2 separate regions of the Homo sapiens genome follow, and region 2 is linked to region 1. The links come from fine-mapping of genetic effects on gene expression. A gene starts in region 1. The other region holds a variant in brackets. All regions are shown on one strand. Distances are between the middles of the regions.

Region 1 (8,307 bases):
CTTTTTGGTAAGGGCAGGGATTTTAGGATAACGCCAGACTGTGGGCAACTTTAAAGCCGTGGCCTTGACCCTCCCTTTCCCTAATCCCCGGGCCAATCCCCAGGGAGTCCTGTCTGGGCTTCCTCCACAGCACCTCTCTCTACCCACCCCCCACCAGGCCATCAAGCCACTGTCACCGCAGACCACAGCAGTGACCACCTAACTGCTCTCCCTGCTTCTCCTCTTGCCCTGGTATAATCCATTCCACATACGGCAGCCACAGTGAGCTTTTCAAAATGGAAATTAGATCAGGGCCCTCTCCAAAGGTTCCTGTCACACCCAGTGAGAGGGGTCTGCCACCTCCCGCCCTCCTGCCCCTGCCCCAGGTGGCCTCTCACAGGGCCTGAGAAGCCTGAGCCCGGGCAGGGGTGCCGAGGGGAGAGGGTGGGGGCGGGCGCTACCTGAAGTGGTCCACCTGGTTGAGCACGTAGATGTGGTGCCGGATCTTCTTCCTGCTCAGGAAGCGGCGCATGTGGGGCACGAAGACCAGGAGCTCCTCGAAGCGTTCGCGGAAGGGCACCAGCACTGCCAGGCGGTGGGGGCCCCAGGATGCGTCTTCTTCCCAGTGCTCAGGGGGCGGCTCTGGGGGGCAGGCACGGGGAGGGCCCGAGGTCTCCTGCCCTTGTCCCCTGACTGCCCGGGCCACGTCCCCAGAGCAGCTGAGCTGCAGCCAGAGTAGGGAGAAGAAGCCCAGCGAGAGGCAGGCCACGAACAGGTGGAAGACGGAACACTTCCGAGGGAGGCCGCCGGAGAGCAACCCGGACCTGGAGCAAGCGCGGGACAGGGTCAGGAGGGCGGGGCAGGGCTGGCCCTGTGACAGACCCGTTCTCTGGCCTCCCCACGAGGAGGCTGCACATAACTCGTCTACCCCAAGCACCTGGGAATTAGTACAGAAGCAACTTTAATGTTTCTGCTCATGCCACTACCATGCATCCGAATCCTGCTTGCCTCTCTAGACCCAACCCATGCCACCCGCTCTCGGGAAGCCCTCTGAACCACTCCCAGTTCACAGAGCTGCCCCGGCTCCTCAATGCTCTCTTACTTTCTGTGACTGAGTCCTGGTCAGAGCTGCTCAGGGCAAGGATGAGGAGGCTCCTGTCACTTGCAGGTGCTCCTCCCCACGATAGTGGCTCAATGTCCTGAGCCAATGACAGGAGTCCCCACCTTAGAGATGCAACCCACTGCTTTCCAAACCCGCTCCCCTACAGATCCACCCCAGCAGAAACCGTGGCTCCATCCTGCTTCCAAGAATGACCAGAAAGGCCACCCAGACACGGGTGTGTGCTGGCATTAGTCCAGGTAAAATGACCAATGTTTACTCTGGGAAGATCAGACGTGCCCCCCGAAGCAATGCAAGGCCCAAACTGTCAGTGGCGGTTCACTGAACGAGCCTCAAACCTTTAGTCCAAGAGGCAGCTCATGATAAAAGATGGGAGATGGAGAGGGAAAGAAAGATGAGGGCTGGGTACAGCACAGGCACTGATTTCAGAAACTGGAAAAACAGCTGAACATCACAGACACTGGGGTGATGCCAGGAGACAGCCTTTTGGTTAGCAAATACAAAGAAACAGAATTCACCAGATTCCTTTGCCGCTCCTCTGGAAGTTCCTGAGTATGCTGAGACAGGAGCTGAGGAATCCATGAAGGGAGAAGCTTCCTCTGTACTCCCCCTACCTTCTCCCCAAAGTAATCTGCAAAGGAATCCACTTCACAATCTTAAGAGTCAGCGATTAGCTATCAGGTCTTATAAATTCTATCTCCTGGCCAGGCGTGGTGGCTCACGCCTGTAATCCCAGCACTTTGGGAGGCCGAGGCAGGTGCATCACGAGGTCAGGAGCTCAAGACCAGCCTGGCAAATATGGTAACACCCCATCTCTACTAAAAATACAAAAATTAGCTGGGTGTGGTGGTACGCGCCTATAGTCCCAGCTACTTGGGAGGCTGAGGCAGAAGCATAGCTTGAATCTGGGAGGCGGAGGTTGCAGTGAGCTGAGATCACGCCACTGCACTCCAGCCTGGGCAACAGAGCGAGACTCCATCTCATAAATAAATAAATAAATAAATAAATTCTATCTCCTAAGTCCCCCTCTGATCCTTCCTCACTCATCTGTTCCTTGCCCTGCTCAGACCCCTTCAGTCTTCTGAATGACCCTCCTCTGTTTGCCAGACAAAGGCCAAGCCCTTTGGCCTGACAGTCAAAGCCCTCCATGACCTGGCCCCAACTCCAGGTGCTCCCAAGCCTTCGCCCCATGTTCTCATGTTGGGCACCTCGGAGCTTCTCCACTTGCTATATTCCTTCCTGCTCCAGCCCTCACACAGCCTGCTCCTTCTGCCTGAAATGTCCTTCTTTATCTGCCTGAGGACCCCTGTTGATCCTTCAGAGCCGAACTCCAATGTCATGGCCAGCACTGCCCCCTGCCCCCATAATGCTCCCACTTTTGTATTCCCACGGCATCTTCCCACTTTTTTGTAATGCCTTGTGTCCTTGCTTCTCAGGCCGTGTCAGATTCTTATCTGTGGCCCCAGCACAGCAAGCACAGGCCAGACAGCAGAGAGCTTGCCAAGTGAGTTACAGAAAGGGGTAAGGCAGTCAGGGCATGCCTTAAGTCACATGCTAAAGCCAGACCAACTCCTCCCTTTTTCTAGAGAGACCGCCAACCTGGAAGCCAGTAGCCTTGCAGCCAGGCCCAGGTTCCACACGCAGCTGAGAGGTGGCCTGGTAGGAAACCCCCCAGGGCTTCTGACTTACCCCCCATTATCCTGTGGTGGTGGATTCAGCTGGGGAGGAGCACAGCCCAGTCCTGAGAGTGGTCTGGGAAGGCTGGAACCTCTACAGATTCTCCCTTGCCCTCTGGGCTTTTTCTGGGGACAGGGTAGAGACTGGAGAGATGGATATGGGGTGATATCCCACCTTCATGAAAAGAAGCAGTGACTATTATCCAGGGGAACGGCGTGGACTGGGTACTCCGAGCACGTCCACACGCTAATTCCCTCGGCCCTGCTCCCCTCTCCTATGAGGACCACATCCCCATGGGCATCATCCTGTGCTCTAAGAGCACAAACCGCAGAGCAACTGGATTGAACCCAGAGTCCCAATTCCTCAGGACAGTGGACACCGAGAACAATTGTTCCTGGTGCCACCAGGTGGCAAACCAGATTTGCAGTCCCAGTGGCTCCCAGGCCCAGGCCACCCTGGCTCTGAGGGGCAGTCCAGAAGAGGCTTTGTCTCCCTCATCAATCACTGCCCAAGACTAGTAAAAGGCGGATTCAAACCCAGGCAGGCTGGCTCCAGAGCCTACACTAGATAGCTACACTAGCCTGCATCAGTTGCGTGGATCTTTGCACCAACCCTGTGTCAAAAGCACAGAATTGACATCAGTAAATTTCTCTGGAAACAGCTATGGAAAAGGATCAGGAAATAGAAATGCTCCTCTGTTACCTTTCCTTTCTTGTCTCATACAGACCTTCGTACTACGAGGTTTGAATCCTCAGCTGCTCTGGTTACAGGACCTCAAAACTGCAAAGGTAACGGGAAGACAACTGGCACCTCCTGTTGTGCTAGGCAGTGCCATGCTCTTTACATGTGTGCGGTCCTTTAATCCTCACACAGCCCTGCAGAGCCAATACTGTCATAACTGGCTCAGTGACGGAAAGGCTGCGGTCGGACAGATGCAGGGGTCTCTGCTCACATAATTACGGAGGACTCCTGCCCAGGTCGAACGCTAGTCCACGCTTTCTATTATATTCCTGTTTTCCCCTTTCAACACCAAGTCTGAAAAATCCCCAAAAGTACAAGTTGTGGCCACTAAATTCCAGAATCTTATGGCACCTGACGGACTTAAGAAACATGAAGGAAATGAGGTGTCATTCACGAGGAGGAGATCCAGTCATGTGTTCTGTGAGAAGACTTACAGGGACACATCTCAAGTGCCCCACGAATGGAGGCAGTCAAATCGCTTTCCCCATTCTGCTTTAGTGAGAAACAAAATTAGCTAAGGTGTGGGCCAAGCTCGCATCTTTCACGTAGGGCCAATACAGCTGCACAGGAAATGGACTAATGCGTGTATAAGGAGTGTCTAGTACGTGCCAGGCAGTGACCAGCCAGGCAGAGCACGGAGCTTCTGTCTGGTGGGTTCTGCTGGTGGCCTGCGAAGGATGGGGGGAAGTGTTAAGGAGGAAGGGTAGGGTCTGAGGCTATATGGATGTGATGAGGAAGGCAGAGACCAGAGAAACGGAATACACGTCCTCAGGGATCAGAGACAAATTGAGAAACACAAATCCATGGTGAGAGGTCAGCGGAGTCAGAGACCCGCATGCAGATAGAGGGAGGCTGGTGGAGAAACACAGACACAACGAAACACATAACGAGAGAGACTAGCAAAGAGGGGATCAGAAACTCACAAAGGGAAGTCAATGGAGAAATACGGACCCACGGGCCGGGGGGAAGGTGCTGGGGGAAGGACGAGTGCCGCGGAAAGGGAGAGGGGGCGGGGGAGGCAGAGACCCACAGGGACAGACAGAAACCGGAACAGAGCGCCAGGGACCCACAGGGAGAACCACACGCCCTCACAGAAACCCGCAGACATGGAGACGTGATGGCCTCGGGTTCCCAGATTCCGCCGGCGGCCGAGAAGGGAGCGGCGCCCGGGAGGACGGGGCCCGGGCCCACCGCCGCCGCTCACCTGCCGTCCTCCCAGGGCAGCTGCGCCGCTTTCCTCCGCGAGGGGAACATCGTGCGGAGAGGCGGCGGCGCATGGGGCAGGCGCTCGCAGCCCGGCCGGCCCGGCCTCCCGGGCCTACGCGGCGCCTCCGCCTCCCGCTCCGCCCAGGCCTGTCCGCCCCGCCCCCCGGTCCGCCGGGTCCGCCGCTCCGGCCGCGCCGCCAGCTCCCGGAGCCGCCGCCTCCAAGGTTCTGCTTGCGAGCAGCGCGGGCGCGCCTCCCTCTCTGGGCGGCTCCTTCCTAGCCGCCCCGGGACCCGCCTGGAAGCCCGAGAAACTGAAGCCCAGAGGCCCAGGGCCTCCCAACAAATCACTGGGCTGGGACTGGACCTAAGAGTCCAGACTCCCAAACCAACGCTCGGGGAGAATCTGCATCTCCGTCCTCTTTCCGAGGGGAGGCGGGAGCGTCCCGGGGTCCCCGTCTCGGCCCAGGCGGCGCGTTCTCCGCGCAAGCTTGGAGGGGCAAAGCCAAGCTCACGGCTCGGCGCTGAGTTCAGCTGACAGCCCGCGCAGGCGTTAGGAGCCGAGCCCTGAAGACAAGTTGACTGAATTTGAAACCCGACTCTGCTTGCCGGGCGCGGTGGCTCACGCCTGTAATCCCAGCACTTTGGGAGGCCGAGGCGGGCGGATCACGAGGTCAGGAGAGCGAGACCATCCTGGCTAACACGGTGAAACCCCGTCTCTACTAAAAATACAAAAAATTAGCCGGGCGTGGTGGCGGGCGCCTGTTAGTCCCAGCTACTCGGGAGGCTGAGGCAGGAGCATGGTGTGAACCCAGGAGGCGGAGCTTGCAGTGAGTCGAGATCGCACCACTGCACTCCAGCCTGGGTGACAGGGCGAGACTCCGTCAAAAAAAAAAGAAAAGAAAAAGAAAAAGAAACTAGACTCTGCCAATTCAGCTGTGTTTTGACCAAGCCACATCTCTGCATCTGTTTCCTCACCTGGGTATATCAATGGCTCCTATTCTATATGGTAGCTGTGGGGATTCAAGGAGAAAGTGCAAACACTTGTGCAGCGCTAGGCACACAGTTCAACGCCATATAAATGACAGCTGTCATCCAGGAAAAGGGTACTTTGGTGGAGCTGAGAACTGAAGAAGGGAATAGGAGACTGAGTTCCCATATCTGCCCCGTCACCGTGGGAACTTAACCATCCCCCTCACCCCCAGCCCCCCCACCCCTCCTACTAGCCTCCTACCTGGGGAAAGAAAGCGGCAATTGTTAGACTTGACCTCCTCTGCTCTTCCAGGCAAACTTTTAAGTTTCCTAATAGATAGCAAACATCTATTAAGTTCTTATTATGTGCCAGTCATTGTTAATAGTTCTTACTACATGAGGGTTATCTCACGTAGTCCTTATCGGTAGGTGCTTATCCCCAAGTTAAAATTGAGAGAACTGAGGCACAGAGAGGCAAATCAGGTAGTTTGGTTGCAAATCTATGGGTTTGGGGTTTTTGTTTTGTTCTTCCCCACAATCTATGATCTTAATCACTCTGCTCCAGAGAGAACTTCACCGTGGGTGGGAAATGAATCATTCCCAGTAACCCCTTTACCCCGTAAACCTGGAAGTATATAATCCACCCATTCCCCTTCCTGTTGACTCCCCCAGGGCACTGCATCCTACCCCAGAACCGTGGTCAATGCACAGCCCATCTAAAGGGGACCACTCCATCCGGTTAGCTGTTACTATATCAGGATGAAGCTCTACTTCAGATTGTCAGATTCACACTCTCAAGAAATCAGATCTCAAATGAAAACCCAAATTATCTAATTTTTAAATGTGATATCCAGCTAAGAGCCATGTTGATAATGACACTTCAACTCTGATCTCTTTTCTACTTTTTTATTTTATTTTATTTTATTTATTTATTTATTTTTTGAGACAGAGTCTCACTCTGTCAGTCAGGCTGGAGTGCAGTGGCACGATCTCGGCTCACTGCAACCTCTGCCTCCCGGGGTCAAGCAATTCTCCTGTCTCAGCCTTCCGAGTAGCTGGGATTACAGGCGCCTGCCACCACGCCTGGCTAATTTTTGTATTTTTAGTAGAGACGGGGTTTTACCATGTTGGCGGCTGGTCTCGAACTCCTGACCTCAGGTGATCCGCCTGCCTCTGCCTCCCAAAGTGCTGCGATTACAGGCGTGAGCCACCATGCCCAGCCTGTGGTCTCTTTTCAAAAACCCACAACTCTAGTCTAATCATGAGAAAAACATCAGACAAATCCTAGCTGAGAAATCGTACAAAATACCTGACCTGTACTCCTCAAAACAGTCAAGGAATCATCAAAAACAAGGAAGGTCTAAGAAACTGTCACAGCCAAAAGGAGCCTAAGGAGACACAGTGACTAAATGTGATGTGGAATCCTGGAACAGAAAAAGGACAGTAGGTAAAAACTAAGGAAGTCTGGATAAAGTAATGCATGATGTTACTAATAGGGAAAATGTCTTCACAATTTTTCTGCACTTTTAAAGCTGTTCTTTAAAAATACTTTTTTTTTTTTTTTTGACATGGAGACTTGCTCCGTTGCTCAGGCTGGAGTGCAGTGAAGTGATCTCGGCTCACTGCAAGCTCCGCCTCCTGGGTTCACGCCATTCTCCTGCCTCAGCCTCCCAAGGAGCTGGGACTACAGGCGCCCACCACCACGCCTGGCTAATTTTTTGTATTTTTTTTTTTTTTTTTTTTTGTAGAGATGGGGTTTCATCATGTTAGCCAGGTTGGTCTCGATCTCCTGACCTCGTGATCTGCTCGCCTTGGCCTCCCAAAGTGTTGGGGTTACAGGTGTGAGCCACCGCTCCCGGCCTTTTTTTTTTTTTTTTTTTGAGACAGAGTCTCACTGTAGCCCAGGTTGGAGTGTAGTGGTGTGATCTTGGCTCACTGCAACCTCTGTCTCCTGGGTTCAAGCAATTCTGCCGCCTCAGCCTCCCAAGTAGCTGGGATTTCAGGCATGCGCCACCACACCTGGCTCATTTTTTGTATTTTTAGTAGAGATGAGGTTTCACCATGTTGGCCAGGCTGGTCTCAAACTCCTGGCCTCAGGCCATCCACCTACCTCAGCCTCCCAAAGTGCTGGGATTACAGGTGTGAACCACCGTGCCCGCCAAAAAACTTTTTTTTTTCATGTGGAAGAATTAGTTGGCAGCATGAGCCCAGATTGCATCATCCCATTAGGGGAAGCAGCCCCCAAACTTGTCTCCTTCTTCCTGGTCTTTCTCACACACTGCTGTAACCTCCCTCACATTTCTTATTAGAAGGTTCTTCTCAAAACTGCCTGCCCATTTGCCTCCCCCAACCCCCAACAGCAGCCTCACATCCCTGATCAATAACACTGTGATTCTGAGGTGCCAGTAGGGCTCTCAGTGGCTTTACCAGACCCTGGGTGATTACTGCAAAGGGCCCAGAGGCCAGAGGGAGGGGGGCAGGCATTTACCCCACCACCTGCTCAGTATTAAGCCAGCCAAGCTGCTGCCTTCAGCTTGTGCCTGTGGGTGCCTGCAGCCCCTCTTGAAAGGTGGGCATGTCCAAATCGCTTACCTGGAGCTCGAGGCTTCTCTAAT
Region 2 (11,422 bases), 110 kb after region 1:
TGAGGGAGTGGCTCAGGGTGTCTCCAGGTGGGCTGACCCCTCAGTTGGGCCCCCATGCTCAGCAGAGGTGGCCCACAGTGGTGGAGCCTTAGGGTCAGAGACACTTCCTGGCTCTGCCTCTTACTAGCTGGGTGACTTGAGGCAAGTTGTTTAACCTCTCTGTGTACATTTGCAAGTGCAAAATGGGTAAAATCCCAGATTACTCCACAAGGTTGTTGGAAGATTCAGTGTCAATATGTAGCATAGTTGGTGCTCAATAAACTGAAGCAAGTCTTCTTATCTAGCGAGTGAGGAAGGGGCCGCCGAGCTCTCTTAGCCTTCTGACCTCCTACGCAAGCAAGAGGTCATGTTGAGCCCAGCTCGCCTTTCTTTTCCCAGTGCTGTCAAGCTCTGTGCCTGGCTGCCCTGCCCTCTGACATCTCTCTGAAACCTCTTGCCTCCCCTCTCCCTGCCTCAGCTCAGTCTGTGCACTGACCCACCTGAGGAGCCTCCTGGGGCCACTGGCAGCCTGGACCCCCCCAGATCCCCCCCACCCAGTGAAATTGTCTTCCAGCACTGCCTCACAAAAGCCTACTTGATGCAGTGCCAGGCCTCTTGCCAGATGGCTGGGTGGTCCCTTAGGCTTGGACCCAGTCAAGCTGCCCTGCCTGTGTTGCTGGGGCTGGGCTAGAGGCCTGGAAGGGGTTTATCAGGGTCACCCTCTCAGGGCCTGGGAGATACCCAATCCCAGACATTAAAACTGCCAGTAGCCCCTCTACCTTCAAAGCCAAGTCCTGGTCCCTTCCCCTGGCATTCAAAGCCATCGTAAGTGAACTCTCACCCGCTAGGCAGCACACGCCATTCTCCTTTACCGAGGCCCACCGCTTCCTCAAAGTCATTCCTGATGGTCTCAGCTCATGCTGGTGGCAGCCATTTCTCCCAGCCTACTGTCTCTACTCATTGCCACAGGAACCAGGGACTCCCAGCTCAAGAGCCTGAAGGATTGGGGTCAGGGGAAATTGGCAGTCGAGGGCTTGGGAGTGACAGCCATGTATGGCCTACGAAGTCCCAGCTGTCAACTTAGGTCCCATTCAGGCAGTGTTCACAGGGAACCGGGAGATAACAGGGCCTGTTCCTGGCTCTCAAAGGGTCCCAGCAGACCCCTATAGATGGCCCCCGACAGGGTGCTGGGGGGTGAGAGGTCCATAAGAGCCCCCGGTGGTTTCGGGGAGGAAGCTGCCCCCTGCATGGGCCAGAGGGCATATCTGGTAGGTGGAGTGGCCTGGGCAGGAGGCCAGCAGGAGCCTCAAAAGGCAATGGTCCTCCTGAAACACTTGGGCTTTAGCCTGAGCGTGGCTGTTTGTGGACATCATAGCAATTTCTGGACTGTGGGGGAGGGTGGTGGCGGTGAATAGATAAGCATCGTGACTGGGGAAGCTCAGGTGAGCACCACCTGAGGGAGAGGGTCTGGCAGTGAATAAATAAGCAGTGTGACTGGGAAATTGTGAAGCTCAGGTGAGCGCCACCACCTCCTGGGTTGCTTTAGTGTCCAGCAGCTGCCTAGAACTATGTTGAATGAAGAGCTCTCTGGGTTCTGGAAGTGGGACAGCTTTGGGTGGGGCAGTGTTACCACCGTCAGCCTGGCTTGGGTCTGCAGGGTCCAGGGCCTCGGTCACTTTGCTTCTCTCTCCACAGCTCACTCCTGGGGGCAAAGCGGCGCAGGCCGGAGTGGCCGTGGGTGACTGGGTGCTGAGCATCGATGGCGAGAATGCGGGTAGCCTCACACACATCGAAGCTCAGAACAAGATCCGGGCCTGCGGGGAGCGCCTCAGCCTGGGCCTCAGCAGGTATGCGGGTGGACATGGATGGGTGCGCCCGCGCTGGCAGTGGGGATCCCTGCGGGCCCGGCCCGCTGTCACGCTTTCCTTCTCCTCCAGGGCCCAGCCGGTTCAGAGCAAACCGCAGAAGGTACGAGGCTGGCCGGGACATCCGGGCGGTGGGCGGTGTGGGCTTGGACGGCCAGGCCTGCTCGCCCTCCTGGCACATTCTCGGTACCCCAATCCCTGGCCGGGAGTGGAGGGCAGAAACCGGAGCTAAGGCGGGTCTAGGGCCCTGGAGTTGAGCCAGGGGCTGCTGCACGGTCCTGGCACCACGCATGTCCGCCTGTCTGTCCGCCTGTCTGTCCGCCTGCTGCCTCCCGCCGCCGGCGCTGCGTGCTCGCCCGCACTCGGTCAGCCCTCGGTCCTGCGTGGACTGAGATCGCCACTCCCAAATGGGCCCCTTGAAACCTGAGTCGTCCTCTCCCCGTAGCCTCCAAATAGATGTAGGGGGTGGGGTGGGGGTGGGGGGCTGGAGCTGCCGCTGTCCTCTGCTGCAGGCGCCCCACTTCCACCCAGGCCCCCACCTTACCCTGCCCGCCCGCCCTGCCCGGCTGTGTCTCTGCCCAGGCCTCCGCCCCCGCCGCGGACCCTCCGCGGTACACCTTTGCACCCAGCGTCTCCCTCAACAAGACGGCCCGGCCCTTTGGGGCGCCCCCGCCCGCTGACAGCGCCCCGCAGCAGAATGGGTACGTCGGCCCCTGCCCGCCCGCGCCCACGCCATCAGGCCCACTGTGGCCCCACGCCCGCTGCCCGCTGCTGCTCAGTCTGTGCTGCGCCCCAGCCCGGCGGAACCGTGCGGCAGCGCCCCCTGGCGGCCGGGGTGGGGCTGCAGGCACAGGGCCCCTCCCGAGGCTGTGGCGCCTTGCAGGGCACCGCCCTGGGGAGGGGTCTCTGAATGACGCCGCGCCCCCTGCTGGCGGCTGGGGGTTGGGTTGTGGTGTCGGGCCAGCTGAGCCCCAGACACTCAGTGCCGCCTTGTCCCCGGCTGTTCTGACCCCTCCCCGTCTTTCTTCCTCTCCTGTGTCTGTCCCTTTGTCCCTTTATCTGTCTGTCTGTCTTATTTCCTTCACAGGTGCAGACCCCTGACAAGTCAGTGAGCCCCCCTCTGCCTGTGCCTTTCTTCTTCCTTTTGGCACTCTGGGTGGCGGCCCCTCCCCACCCTGGCTGCCCTCCTCTCCACTTCGCCCTCCTGTCCTCTCACCTACCCGCCCAGCAGGGCTCCTGGCCTCACCCTTACCCACTCCCTCCCATCACTGTAACCCAAACCCACATGCACCAAATCCTGGGAGGGGCTGCCCCCACCGCCCACCCCCAGTGTGGGGTTCTGAGCCACACCCTCCCCACAGACAGCCGCTCCGACCGCTGGTCCCAGATGCCAGCAAGCAGCGGCTGATGGAGAACACAGAGGACTGGCGGCCGCGGCCGGGGACAGGCCAGTCGCGTTCCTTCCGCATCCTTGCCCACCTCACAGGCACCGAGTTCAGTAAGTGCCAGCCCAGGGCAGGGGGTACTTTCCTCGCCCCCAGCCCAGGCGTGATCCCTGACCCTGTGTCTTTTTTGGTCAATGCCTGCCTCTGCCCTCTCAGTGCAAGACCC[G/A]GATGAGGAGCACCTGAAGAAATCAAGGTACAGGGACGGGCACCAGCCCCTCTCCCACCTCCTGCCTCTTCCATTCCAGCTACTGCCCTGTGTCTACTCCTGAGGCTCCCAGCTGGGGCTCTCAATTCTCCCTTCCTTCCTTCCTTCCTTCCTTCCTTCCTTCCTTCCTTCCTTCCTTCCTTCCCTTCCTCCTTCCTTCCTTCTTTCATTTCTTCCCTCCCTCCTTCCTTCCCTCCTCCCTCCCTGCCTCCCTTCCATCTCTCCTTCCTTCCACTTCTTCCTCCCTCTCTCTCTGCCCCTCAGGGAAAAGTATGTCCTGGAGCTGCAGAGCCCACGCTACACCCGCCTCCGGGACTGGCACCACCAGCGCTCTGCCCACGTGCTCAACGTGCAGTCGTAGCCCGGCCCTCTCCAGCCGGCTGCCCTCTCTGCCTCCCTCTTTCTGTTCCTCCTGCCCAGGGCACCCCCTTAGTGCCTCCAGCTTCTGCCTACCTCACCCCCCCTTTCGTGCCCCTGGCCTGAGCCTCCTGCTGGCCTGGCCCTGGCCGCCCACCTGGGTTCATCTGACACTGCCTTCCCTCTTTGCCCTGTGGTACTGCTGTCTGCCAGGTCTGTGCTGCCTTGGGCATGGAATAAACATTCTCAGCCCTGCTTGCTCTGCCTGTCTTCTATCTTTGTGGACCTGGTTTGCATTTGGGGTGTGGGGGTGTTTCGTGGTTCGGACTGTTTGGGCCCTGCCGTCCTCGTTTTCAGTGGGAGGGGGTACCTGGCAAAGGGGCCCTGCCCTGCCATCACAGATGGCTTCCTGGCATGAGGGGAACCCCAGGAGCTGCCTCAGAAGCGGGAGCCCTGCCTCGTCTCCCAGCTAGAGACCGCACACCAGCTAACTGGACATTGCTAGGAGAAGCTGCCCTTCCCATCCCTACCCCAGTGGGACCTGGAATCCAACTCGGCAGTTTCCACGCCCCCAGTCATCTCCCGTGGGGCCAGCAGGACCCAGGTTGGGGGGTGGGGCCATGTCAGGAAGCTCAGCCATGCAGGGCCTTGAATGGCAGATCTTGCAGCCAGGTGCCCAGGACAGAAGCCCCAGCCCCAGCCTCATCTACACCCCAGGAGCCCTGGCCTGGTGAGAGGGAGTGGGCTCGGGCCTGGGCAAGGGTGGGCAGCCTCCAGGGGCATGGGGGTGGTGGGCTTCTCTCAGCTGCCTGGGGCTCCACCCCCGTCCTTTGGGGTCCCTGGGCACCCCTTTAGAGTCACTTTCCCCGGCAGGCCCTACCGCCCCCAGCCCTACCAGCCGCCCGCCCTGGGCTGTGGACCCTGCGTTTGCCGAGCGCTATGCCCCGGACAAAACGAGCACAGTGCTGACCCGGCACAGCCAGCCGGCCACGCCCACGCCGCTGCAGAGCCGCACCTCCATTGTGCAGGCAGCTGCCGGAGGGGTGCCAGGAGGGGGCAGCAACAACGGCAAGACTCCCGTGTGTCACCAGTGCCACAAGGTCATCCGGTGGGTGGCCTGTTCCTGTCCGACCCTGGCTTTCCCATCCTGCAGCCCAGCCCCACCTGTCTGCCCACCTGTCTTGCCTCAGCTGCGACTGGGGGGAATAAGGATTCAGTTCTCAGCTGGAGTAGGAGTAGGGACCTGGGCTGGGTCCTCCCATTCTTAATCCCACGCTACCTACCCCAGCCCACCCACAACAACTGCTAGCAGCATCTGCCGTGGCGAAATAGCCGAAGGGCCAACCATAGGCTGAAGCTGCACCCCTACCTTTGCTGCTCTCTGGGCAAAGAGGGGCCTGCCCCCTCCCAGCGCGTCTGCCCCTCCCTCCTGCTCTCTGTCTCCCTCTGCTCTCAGAGCATACAGGCCTGGAGCCACTCCCTCTGTGCACTGCCCCGTGGGGCCAAGCAGCATCAAACACCCCCCAGCATCAGCGTGCCGGATTCTAGAGCCTTCCTAATTCGCAGGCCTGGCCTGCTCTCATCTCTGTCAGCTCTTTTTTTTTTTTTTTTGAAACAGAGTCTCACTGTGTTGCCCACGTTGGCGTGCAGTGGCGCGATCTCGGCTCACTGCAACCTCTGCCTCCTGGGTTCAAGAGATTCTCCTGCCTCAGCCTCCTGAGTAGCTGGGATTACAGGCACCCGCCACCATGCCTGGCTAATTTTGTATTTTTAGTAGAGACGGGGTTTTACCATGTTGGCCAGGCTGGTCTCAAACTCCTCACCTCAGGTGATCTCAGGCCTGCCTTGGCCTCCCAAAGTGCTGGGACTACAGGTGTGAGCCACTGTGCCCAGCCGACTCTATCAGCTCTTGCCAGGTAGAACAGGCAGGCCAGCAGGACAGGGCAGCTCCAGGGTTTGCCCAGGGGCGGCTCAGCTTTTATGAGGCTCCAGTCGTCAGCCCTTCCTCCCGGGGTCCTCCCTGCTCTAAAGCTGCCTCTCCTGTCACCAGCAGTTCAGTGTGGCGGACTGGCTCTGTAAGCTTCACGGCTGCCACGGTCACTTCCCAAGCCTGTCTTCTATCCTATGTGGAAAATGGGGAGAATGAACTGTCCCTCCCAAGGCCTCCTGGTGGGTGGTCAGTCAACCTGAAGGGGGCCAAGACCCCCACCTCTCTGCGTGTGCTCCCTCTGACCGCTCTCGCCTCCCTGCAGGGGCCGCTACCTGGTGGCGCTGGGCCACGCGTACCACCCGGAGGAGTTTGTGTGTAGCCAGTGTGGGAAGGTCCTGGAAGAGGGTGGCTTCTTTGAGGAGAAGGGCGCCATCTTCTGCCCACCATGCTATGACGTGCGCTATGCACCCAGCTGTGCCAAGTGCAAGAAGAAGATTACAGGCGTGAGTAGGGCTGGCTGGCGGGGAGGTGGTCCCAAGCCTGTCAGTGGGAACGAGGGCTGCTGGGAAACCCACAGTCCAGGTCTCTCCCCGAGTGAGCCCTCCGGGTCCTTACCAGCGTAATAAATGGGCTGCTGTACTGGCCTCACCCTGCATTAGTCAGGATGCTCTTAACAAATGACCATGTTCCTGCTCAGAAACCGCCCAAGGCTGCAAAGAGCAGGAGGACCAAGCCAGGAGAAGCCCTGGGCCCTCCTGACTCCCACTTTGGGCTCTCCCTGCCCTGGTGAAATGACAGAACGGCCAACTTGACACGCTGAAGCTGCTCTGTCTCATGCGTCCTCCTCATTTCTGGATCCAGAGCCAGGGCTGCCAGGAGTAGCCAGAGAGCTCTGTGTGGTGATGTTCATATTAGTGAGGTTTACCTTGACCACGAGCAGTGGGAAACTCAAAATAATGGTGGCTTATTTCTCATCTAAAAACATCCCGGGGTGGGTGGTCTGGGACTGATCTGGTGGACCCAGGCTCCGCCTTGTTGCTTGACTGTTGGCAGCACCTGCTTACTTACCACTCATGGTGCAAGATGACACTTCAGCCTCCGCCAAAATGCTCACCTTCCAGCCAGCAGGAAGTCGGAAGGAGAAGAAAGGGGACAGAGCCCCATGGCGTCCATCCTTAGAGGATGCTGCCACCTGAACCTCTGCTTTCATCCTGTTGGTCAGAACCCAGTCACATGACCACACCCAGTGGCAACGGAGGCTGGGAAATATAGTCTTTATTTTGGGCACCCATGTGTCCAGCAAAACTGGGGGTTCCATCAGTCGGCAAGAATGGGAGAGTGGCCGATGCAGTGGCTGATGCTTGTATCCCAGCACTTTGGGAGGTCGAGGTGGGCAGATCACCTGAGGTCAGGAGTTCAAGACCAGCCTGGCCAATATGGTGAAACCCTGTCTCTACTAAAAATAAAAAAATTAGCTGGGTGTGCTGGCGCACCTGTAGTCCCAGCTACTTGGGAGGCTGAGGCAGGAGAATCGCTTGATCTTGAGAGGTGGAGGTTGCAGTGAGCCAAGATTGTGCCACTGCCTTCCAGCCTGGGAGACAGCAAAAAAAAAAAAAAAAAAAAAAAAAAAAAAAAAAAAGGGCCAGGCACGGTGGCTCACACCTGTAATCCCAGCACTTTGGGAGGCCGAGATGGGCGGATCACGAGGTCAGGAGATTGAGACCATCCTGGCTAACACGGTGAAACCCCATCTCTACTAAAAATACAAAAAAATTGGCCGGGCATGGTGGAGTAGTCCCAGCTACTCGGGAGGCTGAGGCAGGAGAATGGCGTGAACCTGGGAGGCAGAGCTTGCAGTGAGCCGAGATCGCGCCACTGCACTCCAGCCTGGGCGACAGAGCGAGACTCTTGTCTCAAAAAGAAAAAAAGAAAGAGAAATCTGCCTCCCAGCCTTGGGCTCCTGCCCTACCAGCCCACACCCCTGGTAGAGCCCCCTCTCCCACCAGCTCAAAGCCCAAGTTCCTTCACTGTGACCTTGTCTGCTCCTCTAAAACAGGCAACACCAGACAGTGAGAAGAGCCAGCCAGACATGGGCAGAAAACCTATTTCTGTGATCTACTGGCTGTGTGAGCAGGGGCTAGTTGCTCTCTCTGGGCCTCACTGAAGAGAAGGGTGGCACTATGCTAGGGCCGGCACGGTTGCAAGGTAGATGTAAGATGGGGTACAGGTGTTGTGGAGGGCAGAAATGCACCATCCGAAGGCTACATGTCCCCCACACTTATGTCTTGCTTGGCCCACACTGTTTCATTTTAAAATCAGTAGCAAACAATTTAAAAAATCAGAAGATTTGCCTGCATGATGCAGTGGCTCATGCCTGTAATCCCAGCACTTTGGGAGGCCAAGGTGGGAGGATTGCTTGAGCCCAGGAGTTCAAGACCAGCATGGGCACCATAGCAAGACCCCTGTTTCTACAAAAAAAAAAAAATTAGAAAATTAGCCAAGTGTGGTGGCATGCACCTGTGGTCCCAGCTACTTGGGAGGCAGAGGGAAAGTGAGATCTCCTGCTTTTTATTTCTTTATGTATAATGATAGGGTCTTGCTCTGTTGCCCAGGCTGGAGTGCAGTGGCATGATCACTGCTCACTGCAGCCTTGATCTCCTGGGCTCAGAGGATCCTCCCACCTCAGCCTCCCAAATAGCTAGGACTAGAGGTGCCCACCAGCATGCTCAGCAGATTTTTAAATCTTTTTGTAGAGATGAGGTTTTGCTATGTTGCCCAGGCTGGTCTCGAACTCCTGGCCTCGAGCGATCCTCCCACCTTGGCCTCCCAAAGCACTGGGATTACAGACGTGAGCCACTGCGCCCAGCAGATTTCTCTTTAACACCTAGATTTCAGCCTGAGCCAGGCAGGCATTCCTGAATGAACCAGTAGTACTGCTCCCAGAAGAAGAGGTCCTCCTCCGTGTGACACAGTCCCCACTTGGCCCTTGCAGGGATTGGATCTGGGATCCCTGGATTTAAACTCAGGGCCATCCTCATAACAGCCTCACAAGGCTGGGATTAGCTTCCCAGTTCACAAGGGAAGAAACCAAGACTTGAGAAGGTCAAGGTCTGGCCAGACCCACACATCTTGGACCCTCATACCGCCTCGAGGCCCCATGCTGCCCTCTGCCTGCTCCAGATGTGAATACTGCTGGCCCTGGCTGGCCCCGGCTGGCCCCGAGGGTCCTAGGGATGAACAGCCCAGCCCAGGGAGAGCTCAGCCCCTTGTGCCTCTGCCCCTTCCCACCTCCTGCGGAGGCCAGTCGACTCACCCACAAAGGGCCAGGCACTGTGGGGATAGATCAGCTAACAAAACAGTTGATGCTTCCTGCCCTTCTGGGCCTTACATTTTGGCTGGAAGAAGAGGGGAGAGGCAGACTGTAAGCAATAAGCGCAATAAGTAGGTTGCCTGGAAGTAATGTTAGATCACGTTACGGAAAACAGGAAAGAGCAGAGCGACAAGTGCTGGGGTGCGTGGTGCAGGGAAGGCAGCTGGCTGCTGCTGGTGTGGTCAGAGTGGGCCCTCATGGAGAAGACTGCATTCGAGCAGAAACTTGAAGGGGGTGAGGGGTGAGCCTAGAGATATCTGGGGCAGAGCAGTCCAGGCAGAGGGGACAGCCGGTGTCAAGCCCAGGACAGGAGTGTGCCTGGTGTGCCAGTTTCAGGCAAGAGGCCAGTGTGCAGAGGCAAGGTGAGAACGCAAGGGAGAGCAGTGGCGGAGACGGTTGGGAACGAGGTCAGACCTGCTGGCCTCCAGCCTCTGCATGGGGCTTGGCTCTTGCTGGGAGCAATGGGAAGCAGTACACAGTTTCATGCAGGGGGAGAAGGCCTGTCTTGGGTTGCAGGGGCACGCTGTGGCAGCTGGGATCAGAGAGAGGAGCTTGTAGGCCAGTTGTTATGTGGTCCCACGGGCCAGATGGCCATGGCTTACCTCACTTCAGGGAGGCTGTGAGAAGCACTCAGAATCTGGATGTGCCTTGGGGGTGGGCCCCACTGGATTTCCTGGTGGACCTGGTGTGGGGTGTGAGAGGAGGGTGTGTTTGGCTGCAGCAGACAGGAGAATGGAGTTGCCATCCGCGTGATGGGGATGGCTGTGGGAGGAGAGGTTTGGGGTGAGGGAATCAGGAACTGAGTGCTGGACATGGCAAGTCTGAAGGCGCAGTGGTCGTCCACTCAGAGACCTTGGAGTTGGAGATGGAGGTGTGGGAGTCCTGAACAGTTAGATGTAGTGTTTACCGCGAGAAGGAACAGGGCTTGCGGCCAGCCCTCCTGTGTTCCCGTGACCCAGGGCAGGGCAGGAGGGGCCTGAGCCTGCCGAGTGACTGGGACCTCCTTCCAGGAGATCATGCACGCCCTGAAGATGACCTGGCACGTGCACTGCTTTACCTGTGCTGCCTGCAAGACGCCCATCCGGAACAGGGCCTTCTACATGGAGGAGGGCGTGCCCTATTGCGAGCGAGGTACCCACTGGCCAGTGAGGGTGAGGAGGGATGGTGCATGGGGCAGGCATGAATCCAGGTCCTCTTTCTCTCTGCCCCCATTCTCAGACTATGAGAAGATGTTTGGCACGAAATGCCATGGCTGTGACTTCAAGATCGACGCTGGGGACCGCTTCCTGGAGGCCCTGGGCTTCAGCTGGCATGACACCTGCTTCGTCTGTGCGGTGAGAGCCCCGCCCCTCGAACTGAGCCCCAAGCCCACCGGCCCTCTGTTCATTCCCCAGGAGATGCAGGAGAAGTTGGGAAGGGGCCTCTCCTGCTGCCCCCAACCCCATGTGACTGGGCCTTTGCTGTCCTTAGATATGTCAGATCAACCTGGAAGGAAAGACCTTCTACTCCAAGAAGGACAGGCCTCTCTGCAAGAGCCATGCCTTCTCTCATGTGTGAGCCCCTTCTGCCCACAGCTGCCGCGGTGGCCCCTAGCCTGAGGGGCCTGGAGTCGTGGCCCTGCATTTCTGGGTAGGGCTGGCAATGGTTGCCTTAACCCTGGCTCCTGGCCCGAGCCTGGGGCTCCCTGGGCCCTGCCCCACCCACCTTATCCTCCCACCCCACTCCCTCCACCACCACAGCACACCGGTGCTGGCCACACCAGCCCCCTTTCACCTCCAGTGCCACAATAAACCTGTACCCAGCTGTGTCTTGTGTGCCCTTCCCCTGTGCATCCGGAGGGGCAGAATTTGAGGCACGTGGCAGGGTGGAGAGTAAGATGGTTTTCTTGGGCTGGCCATCTGGGTGGTCCTCGTGATGCAGACATGGCGGGCTCATGGTTAGTGGAGGAGGTACAGGCGAGACCCCATGTGCCAGGCCCGGTGCCCACAGACATGAGGGGAGCCACTGGTCTGGCCTGGCTTGGAGGTTAGAGAAGGGTAGTTAGGAAGGGTAGTTAGCATGGTGGCTCATGCCTGTGATCCCAGCACTTTGGAAGGCCAAGGTGGGCAGATCGCTTGAGGTCAGGAGTTCGAGACCTCATGGCCAACACGGTGAAACAGCGTCTCTAGTAAAAATACAAAAATTAGCCGAGTGTGGTGGGGCATGCCTGTAATCCCAGCCACTCAGGAGGCTGAGGCGGGAAAATCACTTGAACCTGGGAAGTGGAGGTTG

The links. PIP is the estimated chance that this variant, and not a neighbour inherited with it, causes the effect.
Region 2: its variant is the best candidate, but not a certain one, in a credible set for the expression of B4GALT7 in whole blood (INTERVAL, PIP 0.81).

What each region holds. Positions count from the first base shown.
Region 1 is chr5:177,596,675-177,604,981 of GRCh38, reverse strand. B4GALT7 (beta-1,4-galactosyltransferase 7) reads right to left here and starts at 4,850. Exons shown (of 6, transcript NM_007255.3): 1 at 4,722-4,850; 2 at 441-803. The coding sequence starts at 4,771. TMED9 (transmembrane p24 trafficking protein 9) reads right to left here. Exons shown (of 5, transcript NM_017510.6): 5 at 7,740-8,307. RefSeq lists a silencer at 4,498-5,037 and enhancers at 5,218-5,397, 5,598-5,697.
Region 2 is chr5:177,482,930-177,494,351 of GRCh38, reverse strand. PDLIM7 (PDZ and LIM domain 7) reads left to right here. Exons shown (of 13, transcript NM_005451.5): 3 at 1,675-1,826; 4 at 1,917-1,947; 5 at 2,427-2,545; 6 at 3,206-3,342; 7 at 3,446-3,482; 8 at 4,520-4,581; 9 at 4,725-4,959; 10 at 6,104-6,284; 11 at 10,162-10,282; 12 at 10,370-10,485; 13 at 10,622-10,958. The coding sequence ends at 10,708. Among named protein-coding and RNA genes, the nearest start is that of PDLIM7, 9.0 kb to the left of the region's middle. RefSeq lists enhancers at 1,433-1,974, 1,975-2,518, 2,550-2,844, 2,613-3,578, 8,905-9,620 and 1 more and a silencer at 2,656-2,755. The variant G/A (reference allele first, on the strand shown) is at 3,456.